2 linked regions of the Homo sapiens genome follow. The protein of the gene in region 2 interacts with the protein of the main gene of each other region in a pairwise test. Each region holds a gene or a part of one and is shown on either strand. Other genes may lie near its edges.

Region 1 (3,655 bases), on a different chromosome or scaffold from region 2:
GGAATGACCGCTGGAGAAACAAATTACTGATGGGACGATTAATATATGACTGTGTTGTGTACTCCATCCCCCTGTCCCCATGACCAATGCAGCAGCTGAGTCCTAGGATGCCTCCTCTGGGCTGTTCCATCCTGTTGAACAGAGTAGGGTAAAAGTTTTACGATACTCCCGGGAAAATCTGATGAACTGGAATGTGTACTTTTAACAGAGCCTAAAATTACTTACAGGCCCAGAGGGAATGGCTTGCCTAACTAACATGCATTTTCCACATGCTCCATAGTGTTGCAGTTAGGAAGGAAGCTGTGGGGAAACTTCCATTTTGGTGCAAATCTCAGCATCCCCCAAATAACCTGCAGGACTGCCTGGGGAGGCTGCCATCCCCAACCTCCTGGCTGCTCTCGGGGGACCCCCACACAGCCTCCTCCTGCTGAGCTGGGAAAAGGCACCGGCACGGTCACCAAGCAGCAGTTGGGAGGCACACTGTGTAACCACACAAGGAAAAGGTGGAAGGTAACTTTCAACACACTCGCTGTTATTCCTTCTGTCCCTTTCCAATTCAGACTGGGAATTTCTCCAGCACCAAGCACCAGAATCTCCCTAGCTAGAGACAGAGGCACTGCACCAGCCAAGTTGTTATGAACTTTAATTGGCCTTCCCATAAGCATAAAACATTGTTATGTTACAGAAATCACGAAGTTCTTTCCTACCTTTACAAGCACCAAAGAAAAAACAAATCAAAAAACCCCCAAACTCCAAGGAACAGAGAAATTCCAGCAACCTTTCGAAGATAAGACAAGACCGAGGGCAAATTACAAAAGGAAATATCTCCCGAGAAGTGATATTTAAGCAGTGACCACTGCGGCTGGACTCCAGGGGCCAGAACGGCAGGGTGTGGAATGCAACCTGCCTGTGAGCACACACCTTCGCCCAGGGCAGGCCACCAGCCAGCCAACTAGCAGGCCCGACGTCAGGGCAGGTGGCACCTGGCCAGAGCTGCATAAGGGAGCCACTGAAGGACACTGGGGCAGGGCAGCAGGCCATGAGCCATCTTTTCCCCTCCTCCCACTTAAACATTTCTGGGCGTGCTGCGTGTACAAAGTGGTGACAAGTTCTAGGAGGATCTGCATTCCAAAGGGCAAACAGAAAAGTGGCTCTATTAGGCCTGACTTGTTGACTTAAGAGACTTAGTCTTTTTTTCATTTCTTATCTTAAAAAGTTTTTAAACCAGGATCATTCAGGGCCAACTAGGAGGCCTTCCCTGCAGCAGTGGTTCTGTTATCCTGCCGAATACACTCCCACTCTGTGCATGACATTAATTCCCTGCTTCGACCATTCAGCAGCCTATCCTTCCCAAAGGAAACAGAAGAAAAGGTACCCCTTCTAACACTGTAAGGCATCTCAAGTCCAATCCTATTACTATGAAAAGGAGGATTTCTAAATATCAGGTCTTGCCTCCCTCCTTGCAATTGCCCTGAGTTTTTTTGTTTGTTTTGAGACAGGCTCTCGCTCTGTTGCCCAGGCTGGAGTGAAGTGGCATGGTCATGGCTCACTGCAGCTTCAACCTCCCAGGCTCAAGCAATCCTCCCACCTCAGCCTCTCGAGTAGCTGGGACCACAGGCACACACCACCATGCCCAGCTAATTTTTATATTTAAAAAATTTTGTGCATACATAGTAGGTGTATATATTTATGGGGTACATGAGATGTTTTGATACAGGCATGCAATGTGAAATAAGTGTATCATGGAGAATGGGGTATCCATGCCCTCTAGCATTTATCCTTTGAGTTACAAACAGTCCAATTACACTCTTTATTTTAAAATATATAATTGTTTTGACTACAGTCACCCTATTGTGTTATCAAATAAGTCTTATTCATTCTTTCTAAATTTTTTGTACCCATTAACCATCCCCACCTCCCTCCCATCCCCTACTCCCCACCCACTACTACCCTTCCCAGGCTCTGCTAACCATCCTTCTACTCTCTGTGTCCAAGAATTCAGTTGTTTTGACTTTTTGATCCCACAAATAAGTGAGAACATTTGTCTTTCTGTGTCTGGCTTATTTCACTTAACATAATGATCTCCAATTCCATCCACGTGGTTGCAAATAACAGGATCTCATTGTTTTTATGGCTGAATAGTACTCCACTGTGTATATACACATTTCCCTTATCTATTCAGCTGTTGATGGACACTTAGGCTGCTTCCAAATCTTAGCTATTGTAAACAGTGCTGCAACAAACATTGGTGCAGGTATCTCTTTGATATACTGATTTCCACTCTTCTGGGTATATACCCAGCAGTGGGATTGCTGGATCATATAGTAGCTCAATTTTTAGTTTTCTGAGGAACCTCGAAACTGTTCTCCATAGTGGTTGTACTAATTTACATTCCCCTCAACAGTGTAGGAGGGTTCCCTTTTCCCCACAATCCTCACCAGCATTTGTTATTACCTGTCTTTTGGATATAGGCCTTTTTAACTGGGGTAAGGTGATATCCATTATAGTTTTGATTTGCATTTCTCTGATGACCAATCATGTTGAACACCTTTTCATATGCCTGTTTGCCACTGCAGTGGCATGATCTCGGCTCACTGCCTCCTGGGTTCAAGCAATTCTCCTGCCTTAGCCTCCCTAGTAGCTGGGACTACAGGCGTGCACCACCACACCTGGTTAATTTTTGCATTTTTAGTAGAGATGGGGTTTTGCCATGTTGGCCAGGTTGGTCTTGAACTCCTGAACTCAGGTAATCCACCTGCCTCGGCCTCCCAAATTGTTGGGATTACAGGCGTGAGCCACCATGCCCAGCCCATTTGTATGTCTTCTTTTGAGAAATACTCATTTCTCAAAAGAGCAAATCTTTTGCCCATTTTAAAAATCAGATTATTAGAGTTTTTCCTATAGAGTTGTTTGAGCTCCTTATATTAATTTTCATATTTTTTGTAGAGACAGGGTTGTGCCATGTTGCCCAAGCTGGTCTTGAACTCTGAAGCTCAGGCAATCTGCCCACCTTAGCCTCCCAAAGTGCTGGGATTACAGCTGTGAGCCACTGTGCTGGGTCTGAGTCTGACATTCTACTCTCCTCCAGATAATAATTATCATGAGCACTTCCCTAGCACCTCCTCTGTGCCTGCACTGTTCTGAGCACTTTGCATATATTAAATCATGTACACCTCACAAGCTCCATCTTTCTAGATGAAGAAGGTGAGGCCCAGGAAGGTCAAGTCGCTTGCCCATGGTTGAAAAGTTGCCCAATGTGGAGCCGGCATTTGTGCCTGGCTACTGGGTCCCCAGCCAGATGCTGACTAGCATGTGCCGGAGCCTCCAGGCAGCACACAGCTGTCATTTACATTCCACACAGAGTCCTGTATTTTCCTCCCTAAGTTTTGCAGTATAGAAATGACAGTTTATGACATTTCCTCATGGACCCCCCCGCCAAAAAAAAAAACCAGTGAGTAGAATAAAATATGTTGGTTTACGTGCATAAGATTAGAAGCTGGGAGCCGGGTCAGGGCTGCTGTGTGACTGAGGGGCTGGACTGGATCTATGTCCCCGATGCCTGCCTTTTCCCTCCTTTCCTTTCCCAGTGCTTTTAGATAATATGCACAAAGACTCTGAGCTCTGTGAAAGACGGGCCCTATACAAATGCAGGCCA
Region 2 (2,832 bases):
ATGCCTGTAATCCCAGCACTTTGGGAGGCTGAGGCAGGCGGATCACCTGAGGTCAGGAGTTTGAGACCAGCCTGGCCAACGTGGCAAAACCCCGTCTCTACTAAAAATACAACAATTAGCTGGGCGTGGTGGCGGGTGGGAGACTGTAATCCCAGCTACTTGGGAGTTTGAGGCAGGAGAATCTCTTGAACCCGGGTAGCAGAGGTTGCAGTGAGCCGAGGTCATGCCACTGTACTCCAACCTGGGCAACAGAGTGAGACTCCATCTCAAAAAAAAAGAAAAACAACAAAAATAACTTGGCTGACCATCACCTGATGGTTGCCTGACATTCCTGGTAGTGGGGGCCTCTCTTGGCCTGCTCCTGTCTGCCTGACTATCTACTATAATATAACTAAGCCCAGTAGTAGGGGAAATCCTTTGTTTTGTTAAAATAGGCCACTGGGTAGAGGTTGTTGCTTTGTAGATTTTAGGATCTATCAACATAATACCAAGAAGAAACCACAAAGGAAAAAGTGGTAAATCCAAATACAAAAGTGTTTAGAAGTTTATTAAACATTTTATTACACACCTGTATTGCCTAAAGTTTCTATAACAAACATCTTACATTGGAACGATTTTCTTGTTTTTATTTTCTACAAAAAAAAAAGCGGGGGGACATTAAAATTAAGCATAGAAATGGTGGAACTTTGGGATTTCCTGTCCAGTCACCTGCGAGTCAGGTTTTATTCCAATTGATTCAACGTGGCAGATTAAATGTGAAAAGTAAAATGGTGGGCTCCTTTAGGCAGCAAGTCTTGCTTCTCTCCTGGTTACCTCTGCCTACATAGATATTTGGTTAAGCAAGATGTTTATACCCCCACACATATTCTAGATAGTTCTGGTCATGAAGTAAGTCACAATTTTCCATATCTGCACAATTTTTAAAAAATGGAACTACCCATCTGCACAAAATCTTTGGGAGTGCAGGGTAGGCCAGGCAGTGGAGGAGAAATTGACACCAACTTCCCTGAGAGCTTCCAAAGTAAGAAAGCATCCCTTTTTCCTACGTCAACTCCTGGTTGCATGCTGGAAAATGCAGCAAGTGAGGCACACCAAGCATAGACGCAAAAATCGGAACACAACTGTAAGGTAGCCAGGCTGGCAGGTGTAGGGCCGAAATGGCTGCACACCACCACACTAAAATGTCTGCTACAGCCGCACATTTACAATCAGTTTGGTGATATTTCCAACACAGGCTGGGGGATTGAGTTTCCCCCATATAAGGCAATGACAAGGATTTCAAATGGACCAAACATTTTATATTAGTGTCAACAGCACTAACACAGCTTCAGCTGGCGGAGGAGAGGGAAACCAAGAATATCCACATTATTTACTCCAGAGAAACTTCCTGACACCATCTGTTCTCTGTTACCCCCCACCCACCAATGTGGCCCTTTCCTAGTGCACCCTTGCCTAGCTCTGCGAACCCCTCAGTTATGTCTCTTGGCCCAAGAATTTCAAAACCCCATGTTTTCCTGAATAAAGAGATTCGGAAAGTTCATTTCAACAGAGTGACTGGTAACACAGAAGATCTCTTAATGCTGCAAAGTATTATTAGTTGTCCAGCTGCAAAGATGATTTGTTGTATTTACCTTTATTCTAGGATTGAATGTAATGCTTTTGCTATACAATGTGGTGGCTGGGGGACGGTGAGGCGGAGGGGACAGAGGGATTGAGCTAGATTACACAGCGTAGAAAATCAATGCTCTTACACTCTAGGGTCTGAGAACTGGTTCAGGGTCACAGAAGTGAATAAGAAAGCCAACTGAACTAGCAATAGGAAATAGGTTACACAGAGCAAAGAAAAAACAAGTTTCTGAAACATGTACAAACTACATATGATGTCTATATTTGTGTCTAGCTGATGTGTATACAAACATTGGCCTTTCTGGAGATAAACTGTCCCCCTCTGAAAATCAGGGTAACACTATTAGTAAGTCAAGACCAAAACAAGAGCCAACAGTAATGACAGTACTATATTTGATCTATACGGCCTGGAAAAGGGAATTAAAATGAGACCCTTCAAGAGAGAAAACCCCAATAACTTTTCATTAAAAATAAAAATGACCCATTTATACAGAAGGAGTTCAAAATTTATTTATAAATTTGTGTAAAAGAATATAAGACCTTTTTCTTTTGTACATATTTGTACCATAAAGAAAGTAGGGATTAAAATCTAAAAAGACCCCCAAAGCTTTCAAAACCTGATCTGAGAATTAGATAAGAATATGTCACTTAGAAAGACAAGCCTGTAGCACCCATAGCTCTGATTAACCTGAAAGCATCAAGTGACTCCCTCTTTTTCTACCCTACCAACATCACTCTAATTATACTTCCAATTAGAAAAATAATGTAGCATTTCCCTGGCAGTAGAGATTAAATATGAGTTCAGGAATCAGCTCCTCCAAACATGCATAAATGAGGACAAGGAGAAGCCAGTCACTCCTGACTGCACGGTCAAGTGTGTGGGCAGTTGAAATTAAGGTAAAAACAGTGAGGCTGAACAAAATCACATTAAGAAAAAGCATCTCATGAGGCTTTTCGAGGTCAGTTGATGAAGGCCAGATAGGAGTCAATATTTTCTCATATACCCTGGAAGAAAAAGAAAACAAAAATTACTGCAAGCAGCAAAATAAAATTCAAAGCCTTTGTAGTCAAAAATGAAGTTCCTGCAAAGAACGCTCTTATGCATCAAGCTGAAATGACCATTTTTTAAAATTAACAACTTAAATGACCATTGAAACGATTTGATTTTCAAGTCACATTGCATTTGATTCACAAAATAGTCTTGGT

The links. Proteins that work in one complex are often made in the same cells at the same time.
Region 1: the proteins of EPSTI1 (region 2) and BCAR3 interact in a two-hybrid assay, tested with the Homo sapiens proteins (one large-scale study listed by BioGRID and IntAct).

What each region holds. Positions count from the first base shown.
Region 1 is NC_000001.11:93,584,265-93,587,919, forward strand, and holds part of BCAR3 (breast cancer anti-estrogen resistance protein 3), read right to left. Parts: intron 899-3,655; exon of another isoform or gene 708-898; intron 1-707. UniProt on the Homo sapiens protein: Acts as an adapter protein downstream of several growth factor receptors to promote cell proliferation, migration, and redistribution of actin fibers.
Region 2 is NC_000013.11:42,885,872-42,888,703, forward strand, and holds the end of EPSTI1 (epithelial-stromal interaction protein 1), read right to left. Parts: intron 2,632-2,832; coding exon 2,623-2,631; coding exon of another isoform or gene 2,379-2,622; 3' UTR 517-2,378; downstream 1-516. UniProt on the Homo sapiens protein: Plays a role in M1 macrophage polarization and is required for the proper regulation of gene expression during M1 versus M2 macrophage differentiation.